2 separate regions of the Homo sapiens genome follow, and region 1 is linked to region 2. Evidence: fine-mapped expression QTL. A gene starts in region 2. The other region holds a variant in brackets. All regions are shown on one strand. Distances are from middle to middle.

What was found. PIP is the estimated chance that this variant, and not a neighbour inherited with it, causes the effect. A credible set is the group of variants that fine-mapping cannot tell apart.
Region 1: its variant is the best candidate, but not a certain one, in a credible set for the expression of PCGF3 in monocytes after R848 (Quach 2016, PIP 0.86).

What each region holds. Positions count from the first base shown.
Region 1 is chr4:1,463,374-1,471,696 of GRCh38, reverse strand. No RefSeq gene overlaps it. Among named protein-coding and RNA genes, the nearest start is that of NKX1-1, 61 kb to the right of the region's middle. The variant A/GA (reference allele first, on the strand shown) is at 5,045.
Region 2 is chr4:701,010-709,332 of GRCh38, reverse strand. PCGF3 (polycomb group ring finger 3) reads right to left here and starts at 3,501. Exons shown (of 11, transcript NM_006315.7): 1 at 3,363-3,501. RefSeq lists enhancers at 1,743-2,727, 2,728-3,713, 4,754-5,481, 8,039-8,323 and a silencer at 3,079-3,778.

The sequences.
Region 1 (8,323 bases), 760 kb before region 2:
TCCTTTCTTCAATAAACCCCTCTAGAGCGCCCGAGGTGCAGGCACTGGCTGTGTGCGATGAGCTCCTGCAGGGATCAGCCACCTGGTTCCAGAAGGGGCTGGCCAGGCTCAGCAGTGAGCCCCACTCAGGACCACGCCCACTCTGCCAGGCCCAATAGTGAGTCCCTCTGGGAACCACATGCGCCCTGCCAAGCTCAGCAGTGACGTCCACTTGGGACTACACCCACCCTCTGCGCCCTGACAGCTCAGCCAGCCCCAGGTCTGGCCGGGGTGTGATGGGTGACGCTGGCCATGTGGAGTCAGACAGCTGGGTGGGGACACTGGGAGCTGCCCTCCTGGGGAACCTCCCCAGGATTTCCCTGTCCCCTGCTCATGAGGGACCCCACAAGAGGGCCCCTTCACCACCCCTCCTCCTAGCCAGATTGGCCCCTGTTTTAAAGTCAGAGTTAAAGCCCCTTCCTCCTTGGGGCCTTCTCAGGCCTCACTCCCCTGACTTCCAGCGCCATCTTAACCCCTGTGCCTCACTCTCCTGCCCTGTTGGGCGGTGCCCTCGGGTCCTCTACCCATGGTCAGCATTGGTCCCAGCAGATGCCCTGACCCACTCCCACAAACCCTCCCAGGCCTCGGCCCCTCCTGCTTCCTAGACACATCCCCACCTGGCCAGCTAGAGCTGCCTGTGAGGGCAGTAGGGCTGGGCTGGCCGGGTCTCCGGGGGAAGGAGAAGCACTGGCCTGGAGCCTGGGCAGAGCTGGGCCCACGCCAGGGCCTGGGGTCTGAGAAGGAGCTCTCGGCGAGGGGTTCCTGGAGGAGGAGACAGAGCCTGAGAGGGATTCGCAGGGACAAGGGTGCTAGGAGGGCTGGTTACAGCATTGGGGTCAGGATGGAGCAGGTCCAGGGGAGGAGCAGTGTGGGGGACTTGGGGCCGATTTTTGAAGGACCCAGAGAAGTTGCATTGGCGTCAGCTCAGCTGGACATGTCCTTGATGGCTTTTGCCTTTTCTTACAAAGTTGAAGCCTGTAGGAAACACCTGGTTTGCTTTGGGTGAAGCCTGCCTGCCTGCTTGTTCTCTCCCCTGAGCAGCCGTGAAATTGATATTTAAAACTAATTGTACAGCACCCTCGGGGCAGCAGTGCCAGGCAGTGGCTGGACAGTGGCCATATTCATTCCATCTTGCCTCGGGCTCTGTCCATGACCCCAGCAGGAGATTAGGGGCTGAAGATGAGGGGCTTATCTCCAGCGGACAGGGGCTGCCCCACCCCCACTGCCAGCCGCAGCCCCCTCCTCCAGCTGCCCACGGCCGCTCAGCTGCCCCCTCCTCGGAGAGTGGCCCTCCGATCTCATAACATCCAATTACTGCCCTGACTGCTGTCTGGGTCTCAGATCAAATCGCTCAGCTGCAGTGAGGAGCCCCAAACAGGTCAATCTTGGCCGGTTAGACACGGTGTCCAGCATGAGGCCGCGGAGCCCGCCTCAGGAGCCAGAGGCAACACGCACAGCCCTGGGGTCGTGGCCGCCACCAGCGTCTTGATGATACTGGGCTCTGGCTGTGAGTCAGGGCCAGGACACTGTCAGCATGCAGGGCGCGGTCAGGCATGGACACGAGGGTGGTGGCCTTGGGAAGGGTCACCAGCGACTGGCCACCAGGCCACCCAGCAGCTCTGGCAGTAGGTGCCGCGGCCCCCGGCCCACTGGCTGCAGGCCTGTGTGCTGTAGTGCACTGGGTGGAACAGCATCCCTCTGAAATTCCTGTACATCAGTACCCATGAGTGTGACTCATTCAGAAACAGGCTTTGCAGATGTACTCAAGGTAAAATGGAGTCACATGGGTAGGGCGGGCCCTAATCCAATGACTGGTGTCCTTGTAAGAAGAGAAAACAGAGACACGGAGACACCCACGCAGGGAGATGGCCATGTGAAGACAGAGGCAGGTGGAGTGTGCTGCTACAAGCCAAGAGGATGGCATCCAGGAAGGCCAGCAGCCCAGGAATCTGGGGAGACGCAGGAAGGGTCCTCCCCTGGAGACTGCAGAGAGTGTAGCTCTGCCAGCACCTGGGTTTCAGGCTTCTGGGCTCCAGCCTGTGAGAGGACGCACTTCTGGCATTGTTAGCCCCTCGGGTTGGGGCACTTTGTTATGGCAGCCACAGGACATTGGTGTGCCCACTGTGTTGGCAAAATCTCTGGTTGGTCCCTAGGCCCACAGCTTCTGCCCACCTCCCACCACCTCCCCTCCAAGCCTCCTACCCTTCTCATGGCCCTTTGGGGTACCCACAGCTATACCCTGATGTTCAGAGGTCACTTGAATCCACTGAGAATCTTATGTCAGTCCCAGCCATGTCATCAAACAGGGGCCAGCCCCCTGTGATCTCCACTCCCTACCCTGGGGGCCTCCTCAAAGCCAGGCAGCAGGGCTCTGCAATGCCCTTCAGGGTCCCAAGACCCTGAACCTTCCCCCCTTGCCAGTCAGCCCGAAACTCAGCAGGAGCAGGGTGCAGCGCTTAGAGCCATCCGCAGACCTAGCTCCACAGCCTCCACCTCTGGGAGCCTCAGTGCTTGCATCTGTAAAATAGGGGCGAAACTCCCACTGCTGAGGTGGCCTGCGCTCTATCATCCAAAGGAAAGAGTGGAAGCAGGTGTGTAAAAACGATGCCTGGTCAGCCAGTGTGGACAGGAATTATCCAGGAGAACCAGGTCCCTGAAATGTCCCTAGCCCCAAGGGTCATTGTGAGGACTAAATGGGTAAAGCTCTCTTTGCACAGTGCCCAGCCCTTAGTGGGCACTCAGCAGGCACTTTTCTCTGTCCCTTGATATTGACAGCCACTGGGGGCCTCCTCTGGACCCTGCATTCTCAGCCTAGAGTGGAAGGTGTCACCAGTACCGGTGGCCTGCTCTCCCTTTAAGGTTGGGCGCCAAATGTGGGGTCCTTTATGGCCCTCCTGCCACAGGCACTGATGCTCATCCGTGGCCTTCCACCTGGTGTCTCCTATTTCATTCACAGCCTCTTGTACTTGTGTGCTCTACCAAGGTTTCAAAAACCCATTATCCCATTTAATCTAATGGCAACAGTTTGATGTCAGCAAGGCAGATGTCTTTCCCATTATCTCTCACATCATCATTGCTCATATTCACCCATCATCACCACCATAATCATCACCATTATCATCATCCCCATCATCACTATCACCATCATTATTATCATCATTCACACCATCCCCACCAACATTATCACCACCATCACCACCATCAGCAGCAGCATCGCATCATCACTGTCAGCATTAACATAATCATCACCATTATCATCAACATCGCCATTATCATCAACGTCACCATCATCATCATCATCACCATCATCAGTAGCATCACCATCACCATCACCATCACTATCATCATCATTATCCCTACCATCATCACAATCATCACCACCATTGTCATCACCATGGTCACCACGATCACCACCACCATCATTATCACCATCACCATCATCATCATCACAGTCACCATCATCATCACCATCACCATCATCATCATCACAGTCACCATCATCATCACCATCACCATCATCTTCACCATCATCATCACCATCACCATCACCATCAGCAGCAGCATCACCATTACTATCACCATCATCCCTACCATCATCGTCATCACCATGGTCACCACCATCACCATCATCATAATCACCACCATCACCACCATCATCATCACCATCACCACCATCATTACCATCACCATCATCTTCACCATCATCACTACCACCATCATCATCACCATAATCACCACCATCACCACCATCATCACCATCATCACCACCATCACCACCATCATCACTATCATCACCACCACCACCATCACCATCACCACCATCATCACTATCATCACCACCATCACCACCATCATCATCACTATCATCATCACCATCACCACCATCATCACTACCACCATCATCATCACCATCACCATAATCACCATCATCACCACCATCATCACAATCAACACCATTATCACCATCACCATTGTCACTATTGTCAACCCAATGATGATCTTCTTCATTATCTTCACAATCATCCATCATCATCACCATTATTGTCACTGCCATCAACCCTTTCGTTATCTCCTTTATCACCACCATGACTGTCATCATCATCATCATCATCATCATCATCATCCAAAACCAATTTTCAGCTGCAAAGTCAAAGGTAAAGAGAAGCACTGAATGACTTGCTGAAGGCCACTCGGTCTTCTACAAGGCCACTTTTTAGAAGGGTTCAAACACTCAAACACCTTCTGATCTTCTTCTGTACCAGTCCCAGAAGAAATGCCACGCAAGCAGCCCCCACAGTGCCCTACGCTCTCTACCTTCCTCCTGGAGATGTGCTGATTTTCTGGCCCATGCCCACAGTCAATTCTGCTTGAGGCTTCTGTATCCTGCTCACTCCCTCAGTCATGCCCCATCTCTGTAAGGCCAGAGAATCCTTTTCCATAATACCCAATAAATAACCTGGATTTAATTGAATTAATATCGACAGCATGTAATTGCTCCTGGTTGTTCAAGCCTGCTGAAGAGGGGCGTGAGGGGGTGGGGCAGTGAGGTTATTGCTTTAAAAAAAAAAGGCCCTCAGCCCCGAGCAGCGTTTTGGCCTTATTATTATAGTTATAATGAGGGCGGCTGATTTGACCTCTCCTTCCACAATAGCGCAGCGCAGCCTGGCTAAATAAACTGCCAAAGTCCTTTGTCCCTGTGGGCTGTTTCTGGGTAATTAAAATCAATAGGGTCTTCCTCCAGCTCTCCTTAGCCTCATCAAGCCTCAGTGCTCAGGGCTGCCAGGTGTAAGACAAGCAAATGAACTTGCAGGCCCCTGGAGGGGTGGACTCAAGAGCTGCTTGCACACGAACCAATGGGGCGGGACGGGCAGCGCCCCGGCCAAGCCCGCTTCCCACCTGCTGGTGGCTGTCCTCCAGTGCTGTGGCCTCCCTGGGTCCCAGGAATTTTGGAAACAGCCACAGTCCCAGAGGTGATTGTGTGTGTGGCGGAGGTGGGGCAGGGGGG[A/GA]GGCTGCAGTGGGGGGACTCCAGAGTGGGCCGTGAGGCCAAGGTCTCAGGCTGCAGCTCCGAAGCCAATGGACAGAAGCCCCCAGGTGGGGCCTGGGGTCTGTGAGGAGGATCAGAAAGGGTTCTCCCCACCCGGGCCGGTATCCTTTGCCCACTCTCCCCACCCCGGCCAGGGACCTCTGCCTTCCCCACTCCACCTTTAACTTCATGGAAGGTGAAGTAAGTCCCTGTGGAGCACTGGACTCCCCTCCCCAGCGGCCACCCCACATCCTGTCCCTAGTCCCAGGGTGGCACTCAGTGGCCACGCGTGGACTCTCTGGACCACACAAGCTTCAGGGCCCTTGCTCACTGCTTAGCGGGTGGGCACCGAGGGGCACCCACCTGCAGGGTCCTGTCCTGGGCTCTGGGGCCCAGGAAGTGAACGGCATAGAGCCCACACCAAGGCAGGGAGGCCGGCCTGCTGCACTTGGAGCAAACTGGGAAGGAGCTGGCACAGGGTGTGGGCAGTGGGGCGGGAGGGCCCCGAGGAGGCCGTGGCAGGTGCAGGGACCAGGCCCTGGGAGGCCGTGGGGGCAGATGAGTGGATTCCAGAAACACGCCAAGGACAGAGACTGAGAGGTCTGTGAAGATGGGGTGGTGGGGGGCACTGACGTGAGGGTGAGGGGCCAGCCGTGGGGGTCATCAAGCTCAGAAGAGCCAGTGGAGCTGGAGGCACCCACTTGGGGTCCTCAATGTGTGGATGAGGGATGAGTGCAGACAGGGCAGGGAGGGGTCAGGGCAGCACCGGGTGCCCACAGTTAGAGGATGGGGCCTGGAGAGACAGAGAAAGCAGCACGGAGCCAGGGCAGGAGAGTCTGCAGGGAGCAGAGCTGGGGTGCTGGGCCGAGCTCGGGGTGGCCGAGCTCCAGAGGCAGGATTGGAAATGCCCCCAGGGGCTGAGGCCACACTGGGCTCCTCCCCGCCTCCTCCTCCTCAGCACCCTGTGAGGCAGGGACCACAGTGCTCCTTCTACAGATGAGAGTGGTCCTCATACTCAAGGTTGCGCGGCTTGCCCTGTCCTCCTCGTCCCCAAAACAGACCTCGGCCCCGCCCACTTGTCCACTCTGGGGGACCCCTGCCGAGTCTGCCTGGCCACTCAGGGACCTTCTCACTGGTCACCACCACGGACGCATCCTCCCTCTCCTGCCCCTTGCTCTGGCCCAGTCTCCTCCCTCAAGGCCTCGGCGGCTCCCCCTGCACTGGGCTGTCTGTCCAGCTGTTTTTGAGGCTGCCCCCACAGATCTCCCCGCCCTCTGACATCCCTTCTCCTGGCCCCCTCCACCACAGTGCCCGGCGTCTCCTCCCCAGCACCGCACAGTCTGGCTGCCAGGTCCGGCTTTAGTCCAGAGAGCAGGCTTAGAGGGCAGGGGCAGGGGTGAGGCAGGAGCTGCCCGCTGGCTACAGCCCCTAAGGGAAAGGCCCCTTCTGGATGTAAACTGTTACATTTCCACCCATGTGTGTGAGTTTTGGCTTCTGCTAGGCCCTGGCCTGGCCTCAGGCCTGCAGGGCTTGTCCCATGTGGTGGGGTGGGGACCACAGCACCAACCTGGGGAGGCCGCTGCAGCCTGGGAGAGGCTCCACCTGAGGCCCTTCCACCCCAGCCTCTCCACTCCCGCTCAGAGCTCCCTCCCTGCCCAGCTGCTCAGAATCCTCTTCAAGACAGCCTGCAGCAGGGGCTGGAGTCAACCGCCTGTGCCCTGGGACCCAGCACGGAGCCTGGTGACCCACAGGAGACAGCCAATTCCTGTGTCCGTCAGGGTCCAGCCGGAGGCAGAGCTGACACAGGCCACCCTTGGTGTGGGCTCAACGGGTGAGTCCCAGAGGGTGGGGGGAGCAGGACCAGAGGCCCTCGGATCCTGATACGTAAGGACCTGATGCTGGCAGAGGGAGGTGGCCCCAGCCAGCCCTGCGGGGACACTGCCCACCAATCAGAAGGCGAAGGGTTGGGCTCGGCCAGGCCACCCGCCCCTCACCTCCACTCAGCGGCAGGTTCACCAAGGACGTCTAACAGCCCAGCTCTGGCCTTCCTCCCACACAGCCTACGGGCCACCCAGTGCCCGATGACACCTGACTTTGAGGGTCTCTGTCTGGCTTGCCGAGGACCAGGAAAGAGTTTATTTCCATTCTTAAAAGAGGTTTCAACTTCATGATCCTCCGTAAGCCCTCTTTTCCTAATTAAATGTAGCCTGAATTAAATTCCTTTCAGGGTGCGGGGGCAGCCGGCGCGCTGACCAGCCAGAGGGACCCTCACCCCTCGGGGTGGGCACGAGCAGCAATCACAGGACAGTGATCCATGGGCCAATATCCCCAGCACCCACGCAGCCGACCCCAGGGCCGCTATTAGCTGCTTTTTAATTAACTGTCCACCTCTCCCACCCTGGGCAATCAGACGCCCAGAAGAGGGAAGGAGCAGCCAGGCAGTCTGGTGTCCATGGCCTCCTTTCCTGCTGACGCTGTGGGGCTGCCGGCGCCCCCTGAGCCGCACTCCGGGGCCTCTGTGTCTCCCCGTCCTGCACAGTGCAGAAATCCCAACCTTCACCCACATTCCCTCGGGTCTCCCAGGGCCTTCTGGTCTTCTCGGGTTGGCTGGGGGAACACTGGATCCTGCAGAGGCAGTGGCAGGAGTGAGGGGCCTGAGGGGCCCTCCGGGGAGGGAGGGCAGGGGCTGGGGAGGGGACACCCGAGGTAGGAGGGGGCAGAAGGCCTGGCAGCAGGAGGACCAGGGGTGGGGGAGCCGTGTCGGCCACGGGGTCAGGGGGCTGCGGCTGCCCCCTCCCTTGGGGATGCCTGGGGACACGGTGCACCCCACAACCACCAGCCACCCCCCAGGGCCTGCCCACAGCACAGGGGTCCAGAGACCGACAGTGGTGAATCAGGTACGCGCCGACTGGACCTTGGGTTTCCAGAAACTGCCTCCAACAGAGATCCTTGGGTTTGAACCCAGGCCCAGACAAAGCTGGGACCCCAGCCCCACTCCTGCACTTATTTCATGAAGCTTTGTGGGCACTGAGTCGCTGCCTTCCTGCAGCAGAAATCTGGTGGGAGAGAGGGGCACAGACGGGAGAGGGCAGGCTGCCTGGCGAGGAGGGGGCAACGGTTCAGCTCGGTCGGCATGGGGGCCACTTTGAGGAAGTGACTTGGAGCTGAGGCCGCAGCAAGGGAGCAGTGAGCTCCACACAGCTGTGGGTCTCGTGCTCCCTGCAGATGGCATGTGCAGAGGCCCGAAGCAGGCAGGGATGAG
Region 2 (8,323 bases):
CTTTCATTCATTTGTTCATGCATCATTCACTCTTGCCTTTCATTCATTTGTTCATGCATCATTCACTCTTGCCTTTCATTCATTTGTTCATGCATCATTCACTCTTGCCTTTCATTCGTTCATGCATCATTCACTCTTTTGGGGAATGTACGGCACACCAAGCAGCCACACGGCACCCTCTGGGAGCAGGGTTCCTGGGATGACCACCCTCTGGAAACACCCCTGACAAGATGTCACTAGACAACCCTTCCCTAGTCAAAGGACAGCATAGACCGCTCGCTTCTGAATACCTCATGCACCCCACTTTTTCATTACCACTTCCAAATTAAAGGAAAACACCCACAAGTTTTTGATAAAAGGCTGATTCAAAGGTTTCAGAGAAATAAACCAACCCCCGTCCCCAGCCCGATCACCACCAGGATCCTTTAATTCCTTCCCTTACTAGAGAGGGAGTGGGAAATAGCCTTGCCTGCTCCAACTTTCCTGACTTGGACCAACTGTCCCCAAAATATGCCCAGGAGTCCACATCCCAGCTCAGACCCCACCCCTCCTCCAAGTCTCCCGGACACTGGAAACGCCTCTACACTGAGGAAGTGGGGCACTCACATGACCTTGAAGATGGGGAGAGGGGCAGGAGGGGTTGAAGGTGCTGGACACGGACCACAGCCAAGGCAAGGACAGGACAGCAGCCCCGGACGAGGGGCTGAGTGGGAGGGTGCAGTGCCAGCCTGAGGTGTGGAGCCTGTGGGCTGGGAGCTCCTGGAACCCTGAGGCCCCTGCCTCATACCTACCCCAGGTATCACCTAGGCGGTTCATGTGCAGGGGCTGTGGGGCTGGCCCAGGGTCTCATGGAAAGGGCCTCGGGTACCAGGATGCCAGATGCCTGGCCTTCACAGCAGGTGCATCCAGCTGAGTGGACTGGGCAGATTCAGGACACTGCTGGATTCCCCCCCGAGGGTCCCAGTACTCCTTACAGTCCAGTCTTGGGGCCTACATGCTCCTCAGTGACTTGTTCAGGAGTCCCAGCCCTCTGAGGACCTGTCTGGAAGTTCCAGCTCTCATCAGGTCCTCTTTGAGAGCCTAGCCTTCTTCCCAGTCCACACCAGTGTCCCGACCCTAAGTGACCCCGTTTGAGGTCCTGGTCATCTAGAAGCCTGTCCATGTCATGAGCCCTTCTCACTGTCCAGTCTCAGGGTGCCGGGCCCTGGGAGAAAACAGGGCTGTCTCAGGGTCCCGGCCCCCAGGTGAAAACAGGGCTGTCCCAGGGTCCCGGCCCCCAGGTGAAAACAGGGCTGTCCCAGGGTCCCGGCCCCCAGGGGAAAACAGGGCTGTCCCAGGGTCCCGACCCCCAGGGGAAAACAGGGCTGTCCCAGGGTCCCGGCCCCCAGGGGAAAACAGGGCTGTCCCAGGGTCCCGACCCCCAGGGGAAAACAGGGCTGTCTCAGGGTCCCGACCCCCAGGTGAAAACAGGGCTGTCCCAGGGTCCCGACCCCCAGGGGAAAACAGGGCTGTCCCAGGGTCCCGGCCCCCAGGGGAAAACAGAGCTGTCCCAGGGTCCCGGCCCCCAGGTGAAAACAGAGCTGTCTCAGGGTCCCGGCCCCCAGGTGAAAACAGAGCTGTCTCAGGGTCCCGGCCCCCAGGGGAAAACAGAGCTGTCCCAGGGTCCCGACCCCCAGGGGAAAACAGGGCTGTCCCAGGGTCCCGACCCCCAGGGGAAAACAGAGCTGTCCCAGAGTCCCGACCCCCAGGGGAAAACAGAGCTGTCCCAGGGTCCCGACCCCCAGGGGAAAACAGGGCTGTCCCAGGGTCCCGGCCCCCGGGTGAAAACAGGCTGTCCCAGGGTCCCGGCCCCCAGGGGAAAACAGGGCTGTCTCAGGGTCCCGGGGGAGACGGGGCAGTCTCAGGGTCCCAGCAGTGCTCACAGGACTCACAAGACTGCTCCAGGGTCAGGTCCTCCTGAATTATGGTCATGGGGTCCTGGCCCTCGTCTGTGACCCACTTTAAGGCAGGACCTTCCTGGGGGATCTATTCTGGGGTCCTGGCATTCTTTGGATTCTGCCTGGTCCCTACGTCTGGCCCTCCTCCGTGATTCTTCCCAGGGTCCTAGCCCCCCCGGGCCCTGCCAGGTGGCCAGGTCCGACCCTCCTTGGTGACCCATCTTGGGGTCCCAGCCCTTCTCGGTGACCTGTCCCAGGGTCAGACCCTCCTGGATGATGTGTCATTGTGTCCTAGCACTCTGGGGGTCCTGTGCAATCCCAGAGCCCAACTCTCTTCAGGTCCTGCCTGGTCTGAAGACCCAGCCCTCCCGGGGTCCTGCCTGGGCTGGGGTCGCGACCTTCCCAGGGTCCTGCCTGGGCTGGGGTCCCTACCCTCCCGCGGTCCTGCCTGGGCTGGGGTCTTTGCCCTCACCTGGGTCCTGCCTGGTCTGGGGTCTTCGCCCTCCCTGGGTCCTGCCTGGGCTGGGGTCGCGACCTTCCCAGGGTCCTGCCTGGTCTGGGGTCCCTGCCCTCCCGCGGTCCTGCCTGGGCTGGGGTCTTCGCCCTCACCTGGGTCCTGCCTGGTCTGGGGTCTTCGCCCTCCCTGGGTCCTGCCTGGGCTGGGGTCGCGACCTTCCCAGGGTCCTGCCTGGTCTGGGGTCCCTGCCCTCCCGCGGTCCTGCCTGGGCTGGGGTCTTCGCCCTCCCTGGGTCCTGCCTGGTCTGGGGTCTTGGCCCTCCCGGGGTCCTGCCTGGTCTGGGGTCCCTGCCCTCCCGCGGTCCTGCCTGGGCTGGGGTCTTCGCCCTCCCTGGGTCCTGCCTGGTCTGGGGTCTTGGCCCTCCCGGGGTCCTGCCTGGTCTGGGGTCTTGGCCCTCCCTGTTCTGGGGTCTTTGCCCTCCCTGGGTCCTGCCTGGGCTGGGGTCTTCGACCTCCCGGAGTCCTGCCTGGGCTGGGGTCTTGCCCTCCCTGCGTCCTGCCTGGACTGGGGTCTTGCCCTCCCTGCGTCCTGCCTGGGCTGCTGTCCCAGCCCTCCCTGGGTCCTGCCTGGGCTGGGGTCTTCGACCTCCCGGAGTCCTGCCTGGGCTGGGGTCTTGCCCTCCCTGCGTCCTGCCTAGGCTGGAGTCCCAGCCCTCCCGGGGTCCTGCCTGGGCTGGGCTCTTGGCCCTCCCGGAGTCCTGCCTGGGCTGGGGTCTTCGACCTCCCGGAGTCCTGACTGGGCTGGGGTGCCGGCCCTCCCGGGCCTGCCAAGGGCTTCCCGGGCCAGGCCGACGGGGACGACGGAGCGCGGGCCCGGGGTTCGGAGCCTTCCGGGCCGGACACGGGCCGAGGCCGCAGCCTGAGGAGCGGGCGCCGAGGGCCCAGGCCAGGCGGGGCGGACTCACTGACCTGCGGTCTCGGGGCTGCGGGCGAGCAAGGCGCACGCGGGGTCCGCGCCGGAGGGGGGAGGGGGCGCCGCTCCCTCTGGGTCCCCCCCAAGAGGAGGAGAAAAAAGCCCGTCCGGAGTTTAAAACAAAGAGGCGGAAATGCCCGAGCCGAGCCGAGCGCCGCGTCGGGGGCGCCGCGCTCGGAGCATGCGCGGTGTGCGTCTGGGCTCCCACCCCGCGGCAAGGGGCGTGGGCGGGGCCAGGCGGTAAGGGGTGGGGATAGGGGCGGGGAGGGGCGTGTTCAGAGGGCGCAGGCGCGTCGGGCCTGGACTCGGCGGAGGGAGCCGCGGGGCGCGAGGGCCAGGGGCGAGGCATAGGGCGGGGCCATGAGGGGCGTGGTCAGGAGAGCGACAGGGCCGCGCTGTGCTGAGGGACCCGACGGGTCCTGGACGATCGTGAGCTGGGGCGCTGGAGCAGCAGAGTCCTCAGGCCCGGGTCCCTCCGGGGGTGCCGTCCAGTACGGGTGCTGCTGTCCTTTGTGGGAGCCGGGACTGAGCGCCCTCCCGGCAGGGTTAAGGGTCGGTGTTAGGGTCAGGGGTCGGGTTAGGGGTCAGAGTCAGGGTTAGGGTTGGGTTTAGGTTTAGGGTCAGGGTTAGGGGTTAGAGTCAGGGTTAGGACTGGGTTTAGGGCTAGGGTCAGCATTAGGGGTTAGGGTTAGGGTTGGGTTTATGGTTAGGGTCAGGATTAGGGGTGGGGTCAGGGTCAGGGGTTAGGGTCTGGTCTAGGGTTAGGGTTGGGTTTAGGGTTAGGGTCAGGGTTAGGGTTAGGGTTGGGTTTTAGGGTTAGGGTCAGGGTTAGGGTTAGAGTCAGGGTTAGGACTGGATTTAGGGTTAGGGTCAGCATTAGGGGTTAGGGTTAGGGTTGGTTTTACGGTTAGGGTCAGGATTAGGGGTAGGGTCAGAGTTAGGGGTTAGGTTTAGGGTTAGGGTTGGGTTTAGGGTTAGGGTCAGGATTAGGGGTGGGGTCAGGGTCAGGGGTTCGGGTCTGGTCATGTTTAGGCTTGTATTTAGGTTATGTTCAGCATCAGGACGGACAGGGCACCCACGTGCGGACTCTCCGACCTGGGTGCCCTCCGCCAGGGTGGAGCAGTACGGGCGGCATTTGCGCCTTCGTGGGACTGGCACTGTCCTGAGAGGGCGGGATCCGAGGACCGAGGGCGCGTGCGGGGGTGAGGCGGACGTGCAGGCACGCGGGGTCCTAGGGTCTCCCGGTTTGCGGGTTCTGGGCTGGCGGCCCAGGACGGGAGGGCAGGTTGGGTCTTGGGTGGGAAGCGAGACCACTGTGGTTCCGGGCGGCGGGGCACCGCGCAGTGTGGAGGCTTGGTGGCGAGAGGGGAGGCCCCGTAGGCCCAGGGGCACTCGCTGCGAGGCTGTGCGGTGCAGGCATGGAGCAGGAGTCGGGAGTCATTAGCTCGTCCCGTCTGGAGAGGTGGTGGCTGAGGGAGTGACCCTGCGACTGTCCCCGTGAAGTCTAGAGTTGGACCCCGGGAGCAGCCACCAGGCAGGGGGCCCCGGGCCCAGGTATGGTGCAGCACGTGGGGAAGCGGCTTGAGTCCGCTGCTGAGAGGGGCCTGAGAAGGGCTGGGGGCCTGCTGAGATCTCCAGCACTGGGTGGACACGTTATCCGGGTGGGAGGAGGACAGACAGCAGACATGTGAATGTGTACAGCATTCCCAGGCATGCTGCTGTGAAGGGGAGGGACTAAATGTGGCCACTGCTGCCCCCGGGGGAGGGGAGGCAGGGAGGGCTCCGTGGAGCCATGGGGTGGCCCAGTGCAGGGGAGGGGCCCACTGGAGAGGGCTGCCTGGGATTGGGGTACTGGGGTGCTGGCCCTCCACAAGAGCCCTGACTGCAGTTTTCAGTTGGTGGAGGCAGGCCCCAGATGTGGAGGGGAGGACTGGAGGATCATCCCAGAAGGAGGGCAGGGGCAAGGTATTGGTGCTGGGGTGCAAGGGGCAGGGGGTGGCCAGCAGGCCAGGAACAGTCCTGGGCTGAGTGTGGTGGCCTCAGGAAGAGGCAGAGTGGTAAGCTGCAGTTCAGAACTCACTCCAGGCCCCAGGCCCCTCCTCAAGGAGGTGCAGACCCTACCCCTAGGCTTCCCACTACTCTCCTGGGTGGGTGCCAGCGGTGCCCGGACCTTGACTCTGAGCCCTGGGCTCTTGTGTCCAGCTCTGTTTCTGCTGAATGTCATTAGGAAGCTTAAATGCCACATGGCCGGATGGCTTCCCCAGGCCATCCTGAGTCTGCTGTGTACCCCAGGACCCCCCACCCCCCACCGCCAGTCCTGAGGCAAGACCCCAGAGTCCTCTGCACCCTCTTCCTCTCATGCCCAAACTGGCCATCCATGGCCCATCGGCAGCCAGCCAGGTCTCCCACCTGCACCCTCCTGGGACCTCACTCAGCCAAGGCCCGAGGGTGGAGGCATCGGGGCCAAAGAAGCCTAGGGTGTTGGCAGTGTGTGCTGTCCTGGTGTGAGTTCGGGGTGTGCACATATTACATACAGGCACGTATTCCTTAGCAGAGCTGTAAAGAAGGGAGGCAGGAATCATGGCACAAGCAGACTGGAGTAGAGGGGAGGCCCCTGTCCCCCCCAGAGGGTGCCCCAACCTTCCCCAGGGTGCCGGTCCGCCCTCCCTGCCCACCCAGTCACTAGGGCCTCCTAGGGCCATTGGGTGCCTCTCTGGCAGATCATTCTGGTCACTCACAAACTGGCAGAGGGTCTGCCCATCCTTGAGGATGGAGCAGAACAGAAAGAGCTCGCTGGACCCTGTGCTTCTCTGCTGTCTTCACAGCGTCACTCTTCAGGAACTCTTTCTCCAATTTCCCTCCCCGAGTTCTCTCTTAAGCACATCAGGCATCTGCGCCTACCCCCATGTCTCAACCAAATGCTCCAGGACTTTGTGGGGTAAATCCAACTGCCTTTGTCACCACCCTTTCTGTTGCTGGGGTACAGACATGTGGTCTTGTTCCCAATTGCTCTCTTCTGTTTTCATCAGAAAGTCCTGCCAGCTCTGTCTTGGAAACTTCCCATCATCCAACCATGGCTTTCCAAGGCTGCTCTGGCCCAAACCCGCCCTGTCCTGCTGGAACTGGTGCCACAGCCTTGGGCCCCCCACCCCCAGTCAATCCTCAACAGAGCAGCCAACCAGCGGGTCCCGTCACACCCAAGTGGGAGCGCTCCACCCAGCGCGTGATGATAAGGACGTCCTCTGAGGTCCCTGCTCCCACCTCTGCCTGTTTCCCCAAGCTCACTCCACCCAGAGCTCTCCCTGACACTCACTCACCTTGTTGGCAAGGCTGTCAGGAAACAGGGCTCTCAGACGTGAGTGGTGGGAGCAGAGGAGCGTTTGACAGTATCCAGCAAAGTACACGGGCATTTATCCTTCAGCCCAGTGGCCCCCAAATAGGACTTTATTCCAGAGATAAATGGCAGGAATAAAAAAGATGGATGACCAAGGCTATTAATTGCAGCATAATGTATAACAGAAAAATTGAAAACATGGCCATCCACACGGTTAATCGGATACACTCTTGAACCTCCACACCTTGGATAGTGAATAAAGAAGAGATAAAGATAAAGAAGACTGATAAAGAAGAGACTGATGGTACCACACACTCTTACTTACAGAGTGACCTCCGGTATCCAGGATATGCTGTCCTGCGAGATGAGAAAAGGGCTCACAGTTGCTGCCATTTACCTGGAGCAGGGACCATTGAAGTTCTACCCATTTACCATTGAACATTCTACCCATTTGCCTGCCCTAAAAATGCTTTGTGGAGGCCAGTGTGGCTCACACCTGTAGTCCCAGCACTTTGGGAGGCTGAGGCGGGAGGATTACTTGGGCGCAGGAGTTTGAGACCAGCCTGGAATAACATAGTGAGACCCCATCTCTTTTCTTTTCTTTTCTTTTCTTTTCTTTTCTTTTCTTTTCTTTTCTTTTCTTTTCTTTTCTTTTCTTTGATATGGAGTCTCACACTGTCACCCAGGCTGGAGTGCAGTGGCACGATCTCGGCTCACTGCAGCCTCCACCTCCCACGTTCAAGCAATTCTCGTGCCTCAGCCTCTCAAGTAGCTGGGATTACAGGCATAAGCCACCACACCTGGCTAATTTTTGAATTTTTAGTAGAGATGGAGTCTTGGCATGTTGGCCAGGTTGGTCTCGAACTCCTGACCTCAAGTGATTCACCTGTCTCGGCCTCCCAAAGTGCTGGGATTACAGGCATGAGCCACCATGCCTGGCCCCTGTCTCTTAAAAAAAATAAAAAATAAAAAAATAAAAATAGGTGGGGTGCAGTGGCTCATGCCTATAACCCCAGCACTTTGAAAGGCCGAGACTGGTGGATCATTTGAACCCAGGAGTTCAAGACCAGCCTGAGCAACATGGTGAAACCCTGTTTATACTAAAAATAAACAACAACAAGTATCTGGGCATGGTGGTGCATGGTGGTGTGCATCTGTGGCCTCAGCTCCTTGGGAGGTTGAGGTGGGAGGATTGCTTGAGCCCAGCAGGTGGAGGTTGCAGTGAGCCGAGATTGCACCGCTGTACTCCAGCCCAGATGACAGAGGAAGACCCTGTCTCAAAATAAAATAAATAAATAAATAAATCCCTGTGGATTCTGGGAAGATGGTGGCAGTAGCAAGAATTTTGTATCTCCCCGAATTCCCTCATGAGACTCATAAAACTACAAGGCAGATCAAAACTGAGGTGCACAGCACTGACTGCAAAGCCAGAAGATGACGTATTTTCACACCAGGGGGAGGCAAAGCTCACAGCCTCAATCTCTGTGCCATCGGCATGTGTGTGCAGGGCGTGAGTTTACCCTCTTTCCCGAAGCAGCTGAAACAGTGGACAAAATACATCCAACGATCTTCAGACACTGGGCATCAGGGAGCACAGGACATGGTGCCTGAGAGAGGAGCAAA